Linked DNA regions of Homo sapiens: all the other regions are linked to region 1. The links come from fine-mapping of genetic effects on gene expression. A gene starts in region 1. Each other region holds a variant in brackets. All regions are shown on one strand. Distances are from middle to middle.

Region 1 (4,123 bases):
AGAAGGATTAGAAAAATGCTCATTCTTAATCAGTTCGGGCTTGTCTTTATGCCAGCGAGGTTGACCTTGGGGACAGAAGGGTGGCCAGGATAAGGACAAGCATCCTGGTATTGGGGAATTCTCTGATATGGGGCTGGGACGTCAAGATGGGCCATGATGGCCCCTGGGGATAGGGCTTCTCTGCAGTGGAAGCAGAAGCATCCCGGTGTTTTCTGCTGTGTCACTGTCCTCAGAGGGATGTATAAAGCTGCTTGGGGGCTCATAGGAGAGGGATGAAACCAAGAGTTTGGCTTTCCAGCAACAGCGGACAAAGAGTGGGAAGGGGTACTCTATGCCCCAGGTCTGCAACATCTTGCCCTATGCGCTAGGTTTTCCCAAAGGTCCTTTGGCTCCAAGAATTTTACAGCAGAACAAAGGGATCGATACCCCCAAGGGGGCATAAAAGCATGCCAATGAGAATACCCGCCGCCGACCGGGCACCAAGAAAGTCCTCGGTGGCTGGGTCACGTGCAGATATTGTTGCCTGGGGTCTAGACTGGCCTGAGTCTCAATTGGTTTCTACGGGACAACTCACTGCGGGCTACCGCCCTGGGTGGGTTTGGCAATTGTCCTGCTCGAGGTGGTTCAGGCCGCCCACAAGGGGCACAGCCGGGCAGTCAGGAACCGGGGCTGCCGGCTGGGCTGGCCTGCAAAGAAGAGGGAAGGGCCGGAACTGCAACCGCAGTGGCGGGGAGTGCGAGGGGGCGGCAGGTGCAGGAGCGGGAGGCGGGGCGGAGCTGGGCAGAGTCCTCGCCAGTCCGGCGTCCCGGAGTGACCTTCCCCCACCCCGCCAGCGCCCAGGAGGGGTGGACCCACAGCCCAGGGAGGCCGAAAGCGCGGGCGGGCAGGCAGAGGCGTGGAGGCTGGGCCAGGACTGCCGGGCTGGGGTCCTCGAGGCTCCGGGCGACCCAGGTGCGGATCCCCCAGCCACGGAAGGGGCGGTTCACGCCCAGCCGGGAGCTGGGAGGGGGCTGCGCGGCGCTGCCTGCGCGTCCCTCACCGCCGCCCCCGCCTCCTCCTCGCCCCGCGCCCAACGCCCCGCGCCCAGCGATCCAAGCGGCCCCTCTAGCCCCGGCGGCTCCTTTGTGCCGGCCCCGAACCCGCCCTCTCGGGCCGAGTCCCTGCCCCTGGCGCCGGCGATTGGCCACCGGGCCGCTAGAGGGCGGGGCGCACGGCCGCCGGGGCGCGGTATATAGTAAAGGTAGGGCGGGCGCAGCCAATTCCTCGGCTCCTGGCGGGAGTGCCGGTGGCGCCCCGCAGTCCGCTTGTCCGTCCTTCCCTCTCTGACTCTCCTACCCCGGGCCTGTCTCTGCAGAGGTCAGGGGAGGCGGGGGCCCAGCACACGTCCCCAGTGGCAGCGGGAGCGGCAGCTACGGGTTCGCGGAGCCCCCGACCCCCCAAGGGCTAGAGGAGCGCTCGGCGGACCAAAGAAAGCCCGCGAGCGGCTGCGCGCCCACCAATAGGTGCGGGGCTCGGAGCCGCGCAGCCTGCGCCGTCCCTCCCTCCGCCCCCGCCCCGCCGCCGCCGCCGCCGCCGCCTCCCCCTCCTCCTGCTCCTGCCTTGGCTCCTCCGCCGCGCGTCTCGCACTCCGAGAGCCGCAGCGGCAGCGGCGCGTCCTGCCTGCAGAGAGCCAGGCCGGAGAAGCCGAGCGGCGCAGAGGACGCCAGGGCGCGCGCCGCAGCCACCCACCCTCCGGACCGCGGCAGCTGCTGACCCGCCATCGCCATGGCCCGCGGGAAAGCCAAGGAGGAGGGCAGCTGGAAGAAATTCATCTGGAACTCAGAGAAGAAGGAGTTTCTGGGCAGGACCGGTGGCAGTTGGTGTAAGTACGGGGTCCGCAGCTCCCGGCCGCCGCGTCTGATCTTTCCCGGGCGGCGCATCCCCTGCGCAGGGTCCGCGGCCGGTTCCGCACCCACCGCGCTGGCCGGGGTGGCGGGGGCGAGGGTGGTGGACGCTGCTGGGTCGCGCCGGCCTGGGCTTGCAGTCCTGTGCGGAATGCGGTGTCCCCAGAGTGGGGCGCAGGGTCGGGGCTGGAACACGACAGGCGGAAGGTTATGCATATCGTAGCGATCTTGGCTTGGTAATTTGCAGTCTTTCCTACCGTGCATCGGTTGAGCCTTTTACTCCTGGGAATAGTCAGGCTCTGCGAGACTACATTTGTCTCTCCCGTGTCCTGAGTCCTTAAAAAAAAAATGAGATCTGGGGTCTTGAGAGAACCTCGTGAGGTGATGGGATCTAATGCAGACGAGGTTGTGTGTTACAGCATCTTTCTTCTAGTCTAAATACGTATCTCAAAAGAGAGGAAAGAGAAGGGTGGAGAGGAATCCATCCACACTGTAGTATTTCACAGCGATGGCTAAGGATTTCCCTCCATGACCTCCCCTGGAGTCATCACCACCCAGAAATGGTTCAATAAGCTCCATTTCAGGACTCCGATTCTTAGCTTTGGCCCGAAACCTGGCAAAGTCTGGTTGTTTTCAAGGTCTACACAGACAGTTGTGGATCAGTCAGTAGGTTGGGTTGATTATGGTGAAGGGAATATAAACGCAGAGCAGCTGATCTTAAAATATTTTGTGCAGCCTGTTGCTTGGTTGGATAGACTTTTTTCCATCGAAAATTAGATTTCTTGTTTTCAGCCTCTCCGGAAAGGTGACTTTTTTTTTTTTAAAAAAAAGGTCATTTTGAAGGGCAGAGTTGTAGGCGAATCTATGAGTCGTGACTGCGTGAGGGAAGGAGGGAGGGAACTCCCCCTGCTGCATCACTGCCCCCTCCTCCTCCAACATCATCATCATCATCATCATCATCATGACCATCACCACCAACACCACTGGCACCACCACTGCAGTCATTCAGGGAGTCCTGAACAGAGGCCGATTGGTGTTCCTGCTTGGGAGGATCTGTGGGAATCGGCAGGAGAATGAGTCAGGGAAATAGTGCTTAGCTGACATTTTGAAATGGAAGAAGCTGGAATATATGAATTTTTGTAAAGAAAAAAAAATGCAGCCTGTGAGTCTCTCTTGATTGAAAATTAAAGGGTTAATAATGCATCACACTTCAAGGTTAGTCAAGGTGAAGCGTCTTTCCAAGGTGTTACTGGGAAGCATAGGTATCCCTGAGCCATGGAAAATGTAGTTCTTTAATGGCTTTTAGCTTTTGTTTTATATTTTATTTTGGGGAGACTTCTTCATTGAGATTATTGTCATAGTGTCTCAGGCATAAAGGTAGTTTCCTGTGTTTTACTGTGGAAAGGAAAACCTGAAGAACTGTGGGGTGTGTGTAGAATGAACAGCTCCCTGGCAACTCCTTGTAACTTGAGGGAGGCCTGGAAGGTGCACTGCGGTATGGGCACCCTTCTCCCCAGGTTAGCTGGGGCTTCCTTCTCTGGTGGTCTGACCCTGCTGCGTCACAGGGGCAGGGGCTGCATTGACTCTAGGCACATTGTGAAATTTGCCTTCTTGTCTTTTTCCCCTTAGTATAATATGCATCTTTGCTCATTCCAGTTTCATGCTTCTCAGAATAATACTTGCTTTAGAGGGTAAGGCAGTATGGACTGACTCATTTTTAAGCCGACATTTAATGGGCAGCACCTCCATGAGAGAGAGAAAGAGAGACCGTGTGTGTCAATTTTTATGTCTTGATATCCTATCCAGCAAGCTATCAGTATGCTGATTTGTGAATGTAGACCCAGGACTGCTGTACTTGCCTCCTCTTCCCTTCCATGTTCCACGGTACAGGTGCTGGGCTAAAAATCCCCTTTTTGTTTTGTGCTAATATGTCTGCCCCTTTCTGGCAGTGTAAAAACTGTCAGAGCCTCTCTTAGGTAGAAAAGGCGGCAGCAATTACCGTCTCCTACGGAGAAAATGCCCCTTTTCCAGCACTGGGCCCAACATGGATGCCCTTGGGGCGAGGGCAGGATGCCCTTGGCTCGATTTTGCTTATAGGTAGATTTTCACCAAGATGGACGCAGGAGACTCGCCTGTCACCTGCTGGAGAAATCACAGCATGCAAATCACTTTGTGCCTTCTGCCTTTTTATTAGGTTAATACAGACATTGGTAGGTTTTATATTTACAGCTAGGCCTGGA
Region 2 (4,123 bases), 100 kb before region 1:
AAAAGTTGCAGCAAAGGAGGGGGTGAAGTTGTCTCCTGACCGTGGAAGAAATAGTAAGTTGGGGCTGGGGTTTGAAGAGAGAAAGAAGATTTGGCACGATCATGGCAGATAACACCAGAGAATAGATAGTGGAGGAAAATCACGACTCAGAAGCAGCAAGATTGCATGGTTTTACAGAAGCCTTGGTCAGAAATTCTGAGCTCTCACCAAATTCCTAAGACCCGTATTGTTTCTGGCCATAAAGGCCAAACCTCCTTTGGGCAATGGGTGGCTTTTTCTGTTCCTATCTACCAGGGTCCTTCAGATTTTTTTCTTCCCAGGCAGACTCTATCTAAAACCCCATTGCAGTCCTCTGCCACAAGCATCCAGAACTCAAAGGAATAGTGCCTCATACACTATGGAAATTTCTCAAGACCCTTGAGTGATTACAGTAGTCCAAGAAGTGCTCACCCTACAGTGATCTTCACTATTCAGAGAAATTAAAAACTCCGTCCTCCTTACCCTTGAGGAGGATTTTGAGGTGAGAGGACTGGGGAGGGGCACACAGGCTGAGGGGTTTCCCCTGGGGGAAGGAGGAGATGCAGGGCAAGAAGAGAAGAAGTCCTGGCACCCTGCACTTGAGGGCCTGGCACACAGCCATCCAGGGAAACTGCCATTTCCCTGTTTCTGTTCATTGCTCCATGGCCCCTGGCATCATGGAAATTTCCAGCACTTGTGGAAATTCTCCAGGAATGTGAAACTGCAAAAGTTCTATCTATGCTGAGCCAAGGGACACTTTCTAGCTATCTGAAGAATTTGCTAATTAAATGACTAATGTCAACTAGATTCCCAGGGAATAATTTATATACATATGAGGGGAAAAAGCCACTCTTAACACACCACAGCATCTATAAAAGACTTTGCATTGTGCCTAGCACACAGCAAGGGCTCAAAAATATTAGTCCTCTTGTACTCTGAATTTAGTGACTGAAAGAGGGCATGGGTGGAGCTTCTGGAGGTCTGGGAATATCCTGCCCCTTGACTTGGGTTCTGGTTATATAGGTGTGTTCAGTTTGTAAAAAATCATCAAGCCATATACACATACTCTCCACATTTTTCCTTACTTACGTTATGTTTAAATCAAAACTTGCCAAAGCTTTTTTTAATGTTGCTTGTTACAAGTGAATGTTCTAGTCATTAGATTAGGGCCACCTCTACTTTAGTTAACTAAACCATTTACTTGCATGACTTAAATTATAATGTCTTTTCAAATATTGAGTAATTTGAAATTCCTCTCACTGTAGATATGTTCACAAAATTAGAATTGATGAAGATTCTCCAAGCTTAAAACAATGTATATTTGTTGAAATGTTGAATGAATGACTCTTCTCTTTTCCACATTTCTCTTTGTAGCCAACATTTTTCAGGAACTCCTTTAGCAAGTGTAGAAAGAAAGGCAAGAAAGAAAAGGCACTACTATATATTATAACAATACCTTATATTTCTCTTCTTATAATACATCATAAATTTAATCATATAATTATTTGTCAAATTTGTGTAAGTATTTGCTCAACATCTGTCTCTCTTGTTAGATTGTATGTGTCATGAAAGCCAGAGACATGCTCTTATACTCATCATTATATTCCCAGCACCTAGCAAGGTGACAAGTGTTGCATGAGTGGATAAATAAATGAATAATTGAGTGGATTAATGAATGAGAAATCCAATGTTAGTTTTAGTTGGGTGAAAACTTAGAGGATACATTGAATAAACCCTGGATAAGACATAAACCTGTACCCCTATTGTCATAAAGAATCAATGAGAATACAGAGGGAAAAAAAGTCTTTCAAGGAGGCACTCAAGTTCTTTATTGTATAAAT[C/T]GTTCAAATAAATGTCAGGTTGGTTTGTCCTTATTTTTGTTGTATAGGACTTTTTAATGTGAGTACTTGAAACACTGGTTTCCCTCATTTTAAGTATATTAGAGAATCTTCACATTTATACAAAAGAAACCTTATGATAAGGTCATAAAGGACCCAAGGGAATAATAAATGAAATATAAAGTCAAAGTTGTCTTATTAATAATAAAAAAAAACAAGAAATAGCCTATGCCAACGAGAGAGAAAGTACACTGGTAAGCACAAAACAAAGAGAGGAGAAAAACATTATGTCAAATGATTCAGGCACCAGGAAAGAAAACATTTTAATAAGAGATGAAAGAGCTGGGAGGAAAAATTATGCCTTTAGCTGCTTGGATATGAGTGTGGGGTTAGAGGGACTAAGGGGTCTAGCTAGAAAGACATGTCCATGTGCAGAGCTGGGCAAAGGCAGATCTTGAAGAAGAGGGAGTCTGCCTTAGACTCTCCCCAGTGTTCCAAGACAAGGCTTCTTTGTCCATTTCAGGACATGCTTACAGCATCCTCACCCACACGAAATGCCGACTGTCCTCTCGCTGCCGGCTCTCTGCCCTGACCTCCCCACAGAGCTGAACAGAGTTGTATTTTAATCAGCCCTCCTCCCTAGGTAATATATGTTACTTCTGGGCTTTTTCTCCTTTCAGTCCTCTGTCAAAACAGTACAACCGTATATCCAAGCTCTGCTCTCCCCTTAAAATTTATTTCATAGTATTCATTTTATTCAATAACAACTTTATTGATATTAATTCACATACAATGCCATTCACCCATTTAAAGTGTACAATTCAATAGTTTTTAGTAAATTCACAGAATTATGCAATCATCACCACAACCAATTTAGAACATTTTCATCATCCCAAAAAGAAACTCCATACCCATTAGCAGTCATCCCCAACCCTCAGGCCTAGGCAACCACTACTCTACTTTCTGCCTCTATTGATTTTGCCTCTCATGGACATTTCATAGGACTGGAATCATACAACATGCAGTCTTTTATGGTTGGCTTCTTTCACTTAGTGTAATGTTTTCAAGGTTCATTCATGTTGTACCACGTATCTGTATTTCTGAATTATATTCTATTGTATGAAGATACTACATTTTATTTAGCAGTTCATTCAACGGTAGCCATTTGATTTATTTCCACTTTTTGACCATTGGGAATAATGCTGCTATGATCATTCATATAGTGTTTTCTTATAGGATGCTAAAACTGGAATGAAGCTTCGCAGTTGTCGGCTCTCATCCCCATGCAACTCATGACTTTCTTCTACTACATCCCTAAATGTTTATGTTTAGCCTCATTTGAACAACTCCAAAAACAGAAAATAAACTATTGCCCGAAGAATTCTATTCCAGGATTAGACTTTTATGGTAATCAAAACATTTTTTTCCTTAGATTCTGTCTGCCTCTAACTTCCTAGCTTAGACTCTAGCTTAGTCTTTGGGGGCCAGAGCAGTTTACTTCCTTTCCCATACAACATCACGGAATATTTTAATCTATTATTTTCCCCTTGACTTTTTACTAGACTCTCCACTAAGAAGACTAGACTACATGATTTGAGATTGGTTTCCACTTTAAAATTCTGTGAAGGTGACCACCACATATGTTTTGAAATTTATCCACATGATGAATTGGATATGTGTTGGTTTTTACCCCAGCATACCCATATTTTCCTTTGGGAAATACCTATACAGTTTGGTTTACATGGAACCCACTCTCAGCTCCAGGAGTGAACCCCAAATGGCTTCTTAATTAAGTCAATCAGTAAATCTTTTTTCCCATGGCTCTAATGATGGTTCAGAGGGAGGAGGAGAAACATATGACTTAAGCCAATCCAATATGAGTGAATGTTGCCACTTTTGCTGTAAATAATGGGACACAGACTGTCCTCTTCTGTGCTTGATGGTGTGAGGATATGAAATTTGGGAAAACTGTCAGAGAACCTGTGTGAAACTTGAACCTGAGGATAAGACTCACACAAGTGGAAACAGAGTGGAGAAATGTATCCTGGTGATATCATTTGGGTTCTGAATCAGTACATACCTGCAGCAATAGTTACCCCAGGAACTCTTCAATTTCTCGAGCCAATAATACCTTTTTATAAAACTTGTGTAGCCTGCTTGGGTCAGGTTTTTGTCACTTGTGACTAAAAAATTCCTGATGCTTATATCTTGGTTGAGGATTTATCCTACTGATTCTACTACATGTTAAAGTGTGATAACCAAAATTG
Region 3 (4,123 bases), 300 kb after region 1:
AGCTTCCAGAGGAAGGATCAGGCAGCAACATTTGCTGTTCTGCAATATTTGCTGTTCTGCAGCCTCTGCTGGTGAGACCCAAGCAAACCAGGGTCTGGAGTGGACCTCCAGCAAACTCCAATAGACCCACAGGTGAGGGTCCTGACTGTTAGAAGGAAAACTAACAAACAGAAAGGACATCCACACCAAAACCCCATCTGTACATCACCATCGTCAAAGACCAAAGGTAGATAAGACCACAAAGATGGGGAGAAACCAGAGTAGAAAAGCTGAAAATTCTAAAAATCAGAGTGCCTCTTCTCCAAAGGAATGCAGCTCTTCCCCAGCAATGGAACAAAGCTGGATGGAGAATGACTTTGATGAGTTGAGAGAAGAAGGCTTCAGACAATCGGTAATAACAAACTTCTCCGAGCTAAAGAAGGATGTTTGAACCCATCGCAAAGAAGCTAAAAACCTTGAAAAAAAGATTAGACGAATGGCTAACTAGAATAAACAGTGTAGAGGAGACCTTAAATGACCCGATGGAGCTGAAAACCATGGCACAAGAACTACGCGATGCATGCACAACCTTCAGTAGCCAATTTGATCAAGTGGAAGAAAGGGTATCTGTGATTGAAGATCAAATGAATGAAATGAAGTGAGAAGAGAAGTTTAGAGAAAAAAGGGTAAAAAGAAATGAACAAAGCCTCCAAGAAATATGGGACTATGTGAAAAGACCAAATCTACGTCTGATTGGTGTACCTGAAAGTGACGGGGAGAACGGAACCAAGTTAGAAAACACTCTTCTGGATATGATCCAGGAGAACTTCCCCAAGCTAGCAAGGCAGGCCAACATTCAAATTCAGGAAATACAGCAAATACCACAAAGATACTCCTCAAGAAGAGCAACTCCAAGACACATAATTGTCAGATTTACTAAAGTTGAAATGAAGGAAAAAATGTTAAGGGCAGCCAGAGAGAAAGGTTGGGTTACCCACAAAGGGAAGCCCATCAGACTAACAGCGGATCTCTCGGCAGAAACTCTACAAGCCAGAAGAGAGTGGGGGCCAATATTCAACATTCTTAAAGAAAAGAATTTTCAACCCAGAATTTCATATCCAGCCAAACTAAGCTTCATAAGTGAAGGAGAAATAAAATACCTTACAGACAAGCAAATGCTGAGAGATTTTGTCACCACCAGGCCTGCCCTAAAAGAGCTCCTGAAGGAAGCACTAAACATGGAAAGGAACAACCAGTACCAGCCACCACAAAAACATGCCAAAATGTAAAGACCATCAAGGCTAGGAAGAAACTGCATCAACTAACGAGCAAAATAACCAGCTAACATCATAATGACAGGACCAAATACACACATAACAATATTAACTTTAGATGTAAATGGGCTAAATGCTCCAATTAAAAGACACAGACTGGCACATTGGATAAAGAGTCAAGACCCATCAGTGTGCTGTATTCAGGATACCCATGTGCAGAGACACACATAGGCTCAAAATAAAGGGAAGGAGGAAGATCTACCAAGCAAATGGAAAACAAACAAAAAAAAAAAAAAGCAGGGGTTGCAATCCTAGTCTCTGAAAAAACCAGACTTTAAACCAACAAAGATCAAAAGATACAAAAAAGGCCATTATATAATGATGGGGTATCAATCCAATGAGAAGAGCGAACTATCCTAAATATATATGCACCCAATACAGGAGCACCCAGATTCATAAAGCAAACCCTTAGAGACCTACAGAGAAACTTAGACTCCCACACATTAATAATGGGAGACTTTAACACCCCACTGTTAACATTAGACAGATCAACGAGACAGAAAATTAACAAGGATATCAAGGAATTGAACGCAGCTCTGCACCAAGCGGACCTAATAGACATCTACAGAACTCCACCCCAAATCAACAGAATATACATTCTTCTCAGCACCACATCACACTTATTCCAAAATTGACCACATAGGTGAAAGTAAAGCACTCCTCAGCAAATGTAAAAACACAGAAATTATTACAAACTGTCTCTCAGACCACAGTGCAATCAAACTAGAACGCAGGCTTAAGAAACTCACTCAAAACCGCTCAACTACGTGGAAACTGAACAACCTGCTCCTGAATGACTACTGGGTAGATAACGAAATGAAGGCAGAAATAAAGATGTTCTTTGAAACCAATGAGAACAAAGACACAACATACAAGAATCTCTGGGACACATTTAAAGCAGTGTGTAGAGTGAAATTTATAGCACTAAATGCCCACAAGAGAAAGCAGGAAAGATCTAAAATTGATACCCTAACATCACAATTAAAAGAACTGGAGAAACAAGAGCAAAC[A/T]CATTCAAAAGCTAGCAGAAGGCAAGAAATAACTAAGATCAGAGCAGAACTGAAGGAGATAGAGACAAAAGAAACCCTTCAAAAAAATCAATGAATCCAGGAGCTGGTTTTTTGAAAAGATCAGCAAAATCGATAGACTGCTACCAAGACTAATAAAGAAGAAAAGAGAGAAGAATCAAATAGATGCAATAAAAATTGATAAAGGGGATATCACCACCGATCCCACAGAAATACAAACTACCATCAGAGAATACTATAAACACCTCTATGCAAATAAACTAGAAAATCTAGAAGAAATGGATAAACTCCTGGACACATACACCCTCCCAAGACTAAACCAGGAAGAAGCTGAATCCCTGAATAGACGAATAACAGGCTCTGAAATTGAGGCAATAATTAATAGCCTACCAACCAAAAAAAGTCCAGGACCAGACAGATTCACAGCCAAATTCTACCAGAGGTACAAAGAGGAGCAGGTACCATTCCTTCTGAAACTATTCCAATCATCAGAAAAAGAGGGAATCCTCCCTAACTCGTTATAAGGCCAGCATCATCCTGATACCAAAGCCTGGCAGAGACACAACAAAAAAAGAGAATTTTTGACCAATACCCCTGATGAACATTGATGCAAAAATCCTCAATAAAATACTGGCAAACCAAATCCAGCAGCACATCAAAAAGCTTATCCACCATGATCAAGTGGGCTTCATCCCTGGGATGCAAGCCTGGTTCAACGTATGCAAATCAATAAACGTAATCCATCATCTAAACAGAACCAAAGACAAAAACCACATGATTATCTCAATAGATGCAGAAAAGGCCTTCGAAAAAATTCAACAGCCCTTTATCCTAAAAACTCTCAATGAACTAAGTATTGATGGGACGTATCTCAAAATAATGAGAGCTATTTATGAGAAATCCACAGCCAATATCATAGTGAATGGGCAAAACTGGAAGCATTCCCTTTGAAAACTGGCACAAGACAGGGATGCCCTCTCTCGCCACTCCTATTCAACATAGTGTTGGAAGTTCTGGACAGGGCAATCAGGCAGGAGAAAGAAATAAAGTGTATTCAATTAGGAAAAGAGGAAGTCAAATTGTCCCTGTTTGCAGATGACATGATTGTATATTTAGAAACCCCATCGTCTCAGCCCAAAATCTCCTTAAGCTGATAAGCAACTTCAGCAAAATCTCAGGATACAAAATCAATGTACAAAAATCACAAGCATTCTTATACACCAATAACAGACAAACAGAGAGCCAAATCATGAGTGAATTCTCATTCATAATTGCTTCAAAGGGAATAAAATACCTAGGAATCCAACTTACAAGGGATGTGAAGGACCTCTTCAAGGAGAACTACAAACCACTGCTCAATGAAATAAGAGGACACAAACAAATGGAAGAACATTCCATGTTCATAGATAGTAAGAATCAATATCGTGAAAATGGCCATACTGCCCAAGGTAATTTATAGATTCAATGCCATCCCCATCAAGCTATCAATGACTTTCTTCACAGAATGGAAAAAACTACTTTAAAGTTCATATGGAACCAAAAAAGAGCCCACATTGCCAAGACAATCCTAAGCAAAAAGAACAAAGCTGGAGGCATCACGCTACCTGACTGCAAACTACACTGCAAGGATACAGTAACCAAAACAGCATGGTACTGGTACCAAAACAGAGATATAGACCAGTGGAACAGAACAGAACCCTCAGAAATAATACCACATATCTACAACCATCTGATCTTTGACAAACCTCACAAAAACAAGAAACGGCGGAAGGATTCCCTATT
Region 4 (4,123 bases), 200 kb before region 1:
AATTAGTTGGCTTACCCAAAACACATGGATGATAAAGAGTGGAGCAGTCAAACCTGCCACTATAGGGCCCTGCCAATTCCTATGCAGCCTTCCTTAAAAGAAGCAATGGAAATATATTTAGCTTTAGAGGCAGGAGATGTAGGCTAGAACTCAGGTCTTTATTTATAAATGTTTGGAGCTTAGACAAGATAGATGGTTGTCTGGGCTTTAATTTCTTTATCTATAAAATGAGAATGCTAGCGCCTACCTCAAAGTGTGTTGTGAGGAATAAATGAATCCCTACAGTCTGTGAAAGTGATTTTTAAGCTGCTGAAAGCAACCAAAGGGAAGGTGTTTGGTGGTGGCTCTCTCAGTGCCTGCTACAATGATCTGCCACCTCCCACTCACCTTTCAGGATGGCCTTGAGGAGTTTGTGGACAGTGGATGCCAAGGTCAACACAAGCAGCAATGTGAGAAGATGAGTTACGAACCTTTTTAGGAGCTCTGAAAGGCTCAAGCACTCAATAAAATAGTTCTTAGAAATTTAGTTTTTCAAAAGCAACTAAAACAGCCTTGCAGAATTACAGAAGCCAGGAGAATATTTTCAAACCTTAGTTAGAAAATGAAGACCCTTGAGTAACTAGGCAGAAACTTTAATCGAATATACCCCATTAGATTTTCAGGAACGTATAGAAACTATGTAGCATAAAGGTTTATTTTTTCAGATAAGGAACATGAGATCTGGATACCATACTAATCAGTAGCAGAATTGGGACTAGAACCCAGGCCTCCTGGTTCTGAGTCTGTGCTACTATCTACTATATGAATTGCTCCTCTAAATGCATTCAAATGCATAGGAATGGCATTGACAACAAAGTTAATGACAAAGTATTAACTATTAAGGCCCACCAGTATGGACCTGGATGGGTTTGAACTTACCGTCTAACCTTGAGCAAGTTACTTCACATCTGTGCCTCAGTGCCCTCATCTGTAAAAAGTATTATGATAATGCCAATTTCATGGATTATTATGAAGGTAATGCACAGAAAGTTCTTAACACAGTGCCAGTCGTTGCTCATTTCTTAGTTATTGTATAATCATCAATCCTCTGCATGTCATCAAACCAGAATTATGACTACCTGTGCCTCTCCTTTTTAGGATAACAGCAAACGATCTGGGAGCCTACCAGGAGACAGCCTGGATGTAATTTAGGCAGATCCTGTCTGCTTCTTCCCATATTAAGCAGAGTTTGAAGCAATCATAACATGATAGGATGTGCCTTGATATGAGGGGATAAAAGGAGATGTAGCACTCATTCTGAGAATTTGAGCCTGAGTCCCAGTTTTTTCACCTACAAATGAGAATACTAATACTCGTTCTTTTTAACTTTGTGATACTCAAAACTGTCAGCTTCCATAAAAATTATAGACTATTCATTGTTATAGAAATTTAAAGCAAAAAGCAAAAATGCTGGTGGTTTTTCTTCTTGGTTTTATAAGCCACAGCCTCTCAGTGAAGTGGCTTTTTTACTTCCTTCTCACACTCAATATCTGGGGATTTAATGTCAGAAGTGGGTTAACATTTTATTAATTACATTTGATCTCATGGCCATGAACTTGGGTATTTGCTCACCTCTAACAAGGAAAATGTGGTCGTTGCCTTAGAACATGAGATCCTTTCTGAATAAATTGC[G/A]AAAGTCTTTTCAACAGCCTACTTGTTCTTTTTACATAGGAGCTTAGCTTTGGAATTACGTGAAAGCCACGCTAACCAGCTACCTGCTTTGTGTACTGTCCTAACAATTTGGCCTTTGATTTTATGCTTCTTTCAAAAGCATACAAGCAATAGGCAAACATTATTCATCAAACTGGTTTGATGACATTCTTTTGAATTTAGCTTTTTTTATTCTCCTATGGCACAGTCACATCTATTCTCAAGGCTATGATGACCCACGTGTGCTGAGGCCTCTGGGCAGAAGTGCCACATTAGAGCTTTCATTGGACAGATCAAGAGCTCCAGAGTTCCTGCTGGCTGCCTAAAGAAAGATATTTAGCATTTTCTCTGCGATTGCCTCCTTCCCTTGCCACAGTTTTCTCAGAGTTGTCTTAGAGGAAGTATTCATCTATATCTCTGTTAAGAGCTTTGATGCATAAGGACCCCGCTTGCAGGGGCTGTGAGGCTGCATCTGGCAGATGTGTTGATGTATAACTAGCAAAATGATTTAAGTTCAATCTGATCAATACTGTGGTTAGTATTAGCCTCACACTCCTCCTGTGCATCCTTCACCAAGCCCACAGTTTCTGCCCAGCCATGGTCCTTGAATCTATACTGCCTGATGTGGACACTTGTGTTAAGAATAGCTACCCTCAAAGGTACTCGCACTGTCACATTTTGAACTTCTCTGCCCTTTCTTCCTTTCCTCCCTCCCCACTCAATCCCCAACTTCACATACCCAGAAATCCTAGAAGCTTCCTCCCAGTAATCTCCTTGGAAGAAGCTGACCAGGCTCAGGGGAAATAAAGTAGTAGAGAAGTCCATATTGGCCTCTTCCTGTGGTTTCAGCTCTAAAAGGGAAACAAAAGCCCTAGTTGGAGACTGACCAGCTGTTTACCCACTTCACACACATGGTAAATGTTCTCTGCTGATAATTCTTGTTTCCATTTGACTAAGTGAGAATCCTTATGTCTAGGGATAAAGTGACTGACTCCAATGGGAGGTCACTTTCAGAAGAAACAGAAATAGATGGATTCCACAGCACTAACCAATGCTAATATTGGGTGTGTTAAAAATAAACATGTGTTTTCCCTCAGTGAAATACAACTTCCCCAACCATTTCTTTTTTCCTTTCTCTTTCTCAATATTTCATTAATGCAAACTTTTCCTAACTCAAAAGGTATTCCTGCATACAGATTGGTTTCCACTAAGAGAAGTATGTTTTGATAAAATTTACGCAAAGTGAGCACCATAAACATAGCAGCATAACATCACCTATGGTCATGCTGAGATTGTAACCAGTGAGGTAAATCTGAGCCAAAGACAGCTTTATATCTTTTAGTGGCTTTATTCCCTTTCAATTCAGTGGCTTGCTGAAATAGCTGTAATAATTAAACAGAGAACTTCTAAGCTATCTAGATTATATAAAGATAGGTGCTAAAAGTCACACTAGAGTGGGAAAAGTTTTGTGTGGCAATATGGCTAGGTTACTAAACTGCCTTATACAGAACCTAATGCAATTAGTACTTCTGACCATAGACTTTCCACTCCTTTTTAAAACAGTAATACTAGCAAAGAAGCAATAGAAAACAAAGAGATCACAATGGTAAACTCAGAGGTTCAGATATTTGCTCTGTCGCTTACAGTTTATATGAACTTGGACAGGTAATTGAACATTTCTGTGTTACTTTATTCATCTATAAACATGAATATTAGTAATACTTTTCTCTCAGGCCTGCTTTGAGGATATGAGAACACACACATGCATACATACATACATATACATCCATACTTACATACATAAACACACAGATATAGTAGTGCTCAAAAAATGTTGGATGTTGTTAACATTTGCTGCTATTAGGTTGGTGCAAACATAATTGTGGTTTTTGCATTGTTGGAATTTGCCATTTGATACTGGAATACATTCTTAAATAAATGTGGTTGTATTATACATCATTTTAATGCACATTTCTCACTTTATTTTATTTTATTTTATTGTTATTAGTTTTTGCTAATGACATACTACTTGCTGTTTATTTTATATTTATTTTAGACTATGGAAATGATGTTAGACCAAAAACAAATTCAAGTGATTTTCTTATTTGAGTTCAAAATTAGTGTAAAGCAGCGGAAACAATTCGCAAAACCAACGACGCATTTGGCCCAGGAATTGCTAACGAATGTACAGTGGAGTGGTATTCGAGAAGTTTTGCAAAGGAGAGGAGAGCCTTGAGGATACGAAGCAGAGTGGCCAGCCATCAAAAGTTGACAATGACCAGCTGAGAGTATTTATCGAAGCTGATCCTCTTAAAACTACAGGAGAAGTTGCTGAAGAACACAACGCCGACCATTCTATAGTCATTTGGCATTTGAAGCAAATCGGAAAGGTGAAAAAGCTTGATAAGTGGGTGACTCATGAGCTGAGTGAAAA
Region 5 (4,123 bases), 350 kb after region 1:
TATTCCATCTCCCTGTCTTACCAAAAAAGGTAACCACTATCACAAATTTTAAGTATATTATTACATGCCTTTAAAGAAAAAGTTTTATCCATTATGTGTGTTATTCTTAACCAATATGTTGTTTGATTTACATACTTGATTTTGAGCTTTATTTTTGAAATGGTACAATACAACATAGACGGCTACTTGTTTTTTTCTCAACAGTTTAATTATTCTCTAAAATTTATAAATGCTACTGTATGCAATTATATTCATTTGTTTTTTGCCACTGTATAACATTCCGCTATCACAAAATACCAAATTTTTTCTATTCATTTTCCTGTCTATTGACTAAATGAGAGTTAAATTAGTAATATATTTAATTTGCATTTATGTTTTGTTTTAATTTTCCTGTCTATTGACAGGAAAATGAATATTTGGGTTTTTTCAAGGCTCGTATGTTTTCATTTAAATTTTTTCTTTCATAATTGAGATTTTATTCAATCAGTACATAGCCATTATGGATAATTTGTAAACAAGTCCTAATGTAAGTTTTCTAAAGTATTAATTATTCCATTCTTTTCTAAACAGTAATTGTAGTGACTTTCCAACTTAAAGCTAGAGGCAAACTTTCCTTAAGAAAATATATCAGGCCCTAGTAATTTCAAATATTGATAAACTGTTAGGTTTAAAGCCCCACTAATTAACAATTTAGTATCATACTGCTATACTTCAAAATTTCCAAACTTTAACAATTCTGATATATGGAGAGCCAAAATGAGGGAGCAGTTTTCTTTAGGAGCAATTCTATTTGTTTTTAAAGCAAGAACATGGAGATAGGCTTTAAGTAATTTAAAATATTCAGAGATATTAGTGGATAATTGTGACTGCTAATGGCCATTTTGTTAAATTCATAAGATACAAAAACTGCCCTTCCTAGCAGCCAATACAGTTAACACCCAAGACTGTCAAATCCTCCCTTATGTTGACATCTTCACATTTTAGGTTGTACAGAAAAATTACAGGCATATCATTTCTTTTTTTAAAGAAAGTACATACATGCAGGTGTGCACTCACACATGCACACTTGTGCACACACACAACTTCCTTCTAAAATATGTGTTTTTAGAGCTATTTAAACAATCTTTTATTTACAACATAGGTAATAAAAATATTTATCCAGATTATAATGAAGAAGATACAGGAACCATAAGACTTGGTAACTATATTAATCAGATTTGATTTTTTTTCTCTCCTTAATTAAAGACTAGACCCTCCTCAGTTTTAGTTTCTCTACTTTCTGCAGGAAAGTTGTCTTTAGTTTCTTAGATGGCCATTTCAGCCTGTTTGCCTTTTGCTCCCCATTTTCCTTTGCAGTTTTTTGGCTGAAGATTTATCCTTTCTTCCTCCCTTTTTGGCTTAGTTTCAATTTTTGTAGGAAGTGGCTAGGAACCTTGCCGAACTATTCAAGAGCTCCTCCTTAACTCTCACTTAGCTAATGTGATCATCATCTTTAGTTTCCTGGCAGTGTTTTGTGGTGGGGAGCACAGATGCACTGTGCAACCCTTCACAAAGCCAGGTTGCATTGTTGCTGTATCTAAGTACCTCGCATAAGCCCAATTTATATACTCTTCATGTATAGTATTTTAAAATATAAACCACAGAATAAATAATCAT[TATTA/T]ATTAGTAAAGCTAATGACTGTTTGGTGCTGTGGTTTCAATGTTCCCTCCAAAACCCATATTGAAACTTAATCCCCAATGTGGCAGTTATTGAGAGATGGGGCCTGCACTCATGAAAAAATGTGTCCATTAACAGATTAATGAGTTATCATGGGAGGGGAAATGGTGGCTTTATAATAAAAGAGAGATCTAAGTTAGCACATTATCATGCTCAGTCCTCTTGCCATGTGATACCCCACACTGCCTTGGAACTCTGAACTCTGAACTCTGTAGAGTTCCCACTGGAAAGAAGGCTTTCACCACATGCAGTCAACCTTGGACTTCCCAGCCTCCAGAATGGTAAGAAATAAATCCCTTTTCTTTATAAATTACCCAGTTTTAGGTATTCTGTTATAAACAAAAGAAACTGGACTCAGACATCTGGATTTATCTAAATGCTTATCCTTTTATCTCATCCTCACTTCTTGTATGTGAGACCTTCCTATTAGGGTCTTGTTCATTTCTCCTGGATAATCCATTGCTGGCATGGACTTTTTCCATTTTTAAAATCTGTGACTGTTTTTATTCTAGTTCTTAACAGATCACTCTTCTGGGTACACAATTTTAGGTAGGAAGTTATTTTCCTTCAGTAATTTCATTACTGTTGCCTTCTAGCTTCCATTGTTGCTCTTGAGAAATGGCTGTTAGCTAACTGATTCTTTTTTTATATATGATGTCTTTTCTCTCTGGCTGCTTTTATGATCTTCTCCTTGTCCTAAGTTAATTGTAATTTAACTATTATGTGTCTAGTAGTTTTTAGATATCTGGCTTGGGATACACTCTGATTCCTGTATCTGTGGATTCATGTTTTTCGTCAGTTTTGCTAAATTCTCATTCTTAACATAGAATATTGCTTCTCCTCCATTCTATCTATTCATTCCTTCTGAGGCTATAAGATCTTCTCATTCTGTTCACCTTATATCTTAACCTCTTCTTATATTTTTTAATCTCCTATCTCATTGCTACATACAGTAAGTCCTCACTTAACATCATTAACAGGTTCTTGGAAACTGCAACTTTAAGAAAAATGATGTACTGTATAATCAAACCAATTTTACCATAGGCTAATTGATACAAACAAGAGTTAAGTTCCTATAGCATACAGTATATCATTTCACTTAAAGATGCGGTTTCTAAGAACCTATCCATGACATAGAGGAATTACTATACTAGGTAATTTCTTCAGTTTTACTTTCCACTTCACTAATTTTATCTTTAACTGTATTTAATCTGCTGTTTAACCTAGCCATTGAGCTTTTTAAAGTGTTTTAGTGCTAAATTTAATAAATATACAAAAAAGAACATAAATATGTAATTATATAGCAAATATACATGTACAATATTCCAAGTCAACAACACAAGTACCATAGAAATCTGTGTGCCCCTTCTTAAGTATACCTTTCTTCATCTTTCTAGAAATAAACATTTGCTAGACTTTTATGATAATTGTTTTATATTTTTGTCACCTATATATAAATATTTAGACAATAGTTTGAACAAATTGTATTGATAGATTCTTTTGTGTCTTAGTTCTTTTGTGTCTTTCTGTTTTATTTAAGATTGACTAAAATTATTGCTTGTGGTTCTGGCTTATTCATTTTCATTCCTGTATAGTCATATTTTAAGTACTCACTAGTCACAAGTGTCTAGTGGCTACCATATTGAAAAGTGCTGCTCCAACCAAAGGCTGGGGCAAAAGTAATTTTTGTTTTTTTTTTTTTGTTTTGTTTTTTTTGCCATTTAAAAGTATGGCCAAAATCGCAATTACTTTTGCACCAACCTATAAATATAAATAGGAGGTGAATTGCTCGGTCATAGGAAATGCATATATTTGACTTTAAAGGATAATGCCAAAATGTTATTCAAAGGGATTGTACCAATTTACATTCCCACCAGCAATTTATGAGATCTTATCCATGGAATTTTAACTTCAACATTTCTGTTTTTTTAAATGTTTACCAGTTTCTTATAAATGATATAAATGAACAATTTGATAAAAAGGCACACAGGGGAAATCTAGAAGGGTCCTGAGTGCAGGAGCTTCTGTCCCCATGGAGTTGGGGTAGGCACTCTACTGGCACAGAGATGTGTTCACCAATTTGGAAGCTTCCCAACATTTCTATTTTTAAATTCTAAAATATCTCTTTAGGTTCTTTTTCAAGTCAGTCTTGTCATATTGTTACTTTCTTGGTACTTGCTCATTTCTGTGATTTCATCTTTTGTATCTAAATTTTATACATATTTATTTTATACTGTATATCTCTTATAATTCCAATATCTGAAATCATTAGACTCTTAATCTGTTTGTTGTTCTGCTGACTCTTACTTGCAGTTGCTTATTTATTTATGTCTTTGGTGATTTTTAATAGTCTTTAATTTTTAATAATTAATTTCTAATAGTAAATATTTTACATATTTATTTGAT

Evidence for each region. PIP is the estimated chance that this variant, and not a neighbour inherited with it, causes the effect. A credible set is the group of variants that fine-mapping cannot tell apart.
Region 2: its variant is the best candidate, but not a certain one, in a credible set for the expression of ATP1B1 in Th17 cells (Schmiedel 2018, PIP 0.58).
Region 3: its variant is the best candidate, but not a certain one, in a credible set for the expression of ATP1B1 in whole blood (INTERVAL, PIP 0.52).
Region 4: its variant is the best candidate, but not a certain one, in a credible set for the expression of ATP1B1 in lung (TOPMed, PIP 0.86).
Region 5: its variant is the best candidate, but not a certain one, in a credible set for the expression of ATP1B1 in whole blood (TOPMed, PIP 0.61).

What each region holds. Positions count from the first base shown.
Region 1 is chr1:169,105,066-169,109,188 of GRCh38, forward strand. It overlaps ATP1B1 (ATPase Na+/K+ transporting subunit beta 1), which reads left to right and starts at 1,625. Exons shown (of 6, transcript NM_001677.4): 1 at 1,625-1,861. The coding sequence starts at 1,765. RefSeq lists enhancers at 42-615, 1,106-1,400, 1,189-1,761, 1,762-2,334 and a silencer at 673-1,592.
Region 2 is chr1:169,003,620-169,007,742 of GRCh38, forward strand. The region is part of intron 3 of LINC00970 (long intergenic non-protein coding RNA 970); the gene reads right to left. Among named protein-coding and RNA genes, the nearest start is that of LINC00970, 81 kb to the right of the region's middle. The variant C/T (reference allele first, on the strand shown) is at 1,860.
Region 3 is chr1:169,401,448-169,405,570 of GRCh38, forward strand. All of the region lies in intron 4 of CCDC181 (coiled-coil domain containing 181), which reads right to left. Among named protein-coding and RNA genes, the nearest start is that of CCDC181, 24 kb to the right of the region's middle. The variant A/T (reference allele first, on the strand shown) is at 2,324.
Region 4 is chr1:168,905,431-168,909,553 of GRCh38, forward strand. LINC00970 (long intergenic non-protein coding RNA 970) reads right to left here. Exons shown (of 5, transcript NR_104091.1): 4 at 2,429-2,540. Among named protein-coding and RNA genes, the nearest start is that of LINC00626, 120 kb to the left of the region's middle. The variant G/A (reference allele first, on the strand shown) is at 1,672.
Region 5 is chr1:169,454,770-169,458,892 of GRCh38, forward strand. It overlaps a transcript of CCDC181 not described here. Among named protein-coding and RNA genes, the nearest start is that of SLC19A2, 29 kb to the right of the region's middle. The variant TATTA/T (reference allele first, on the strand shown) is at 1,657.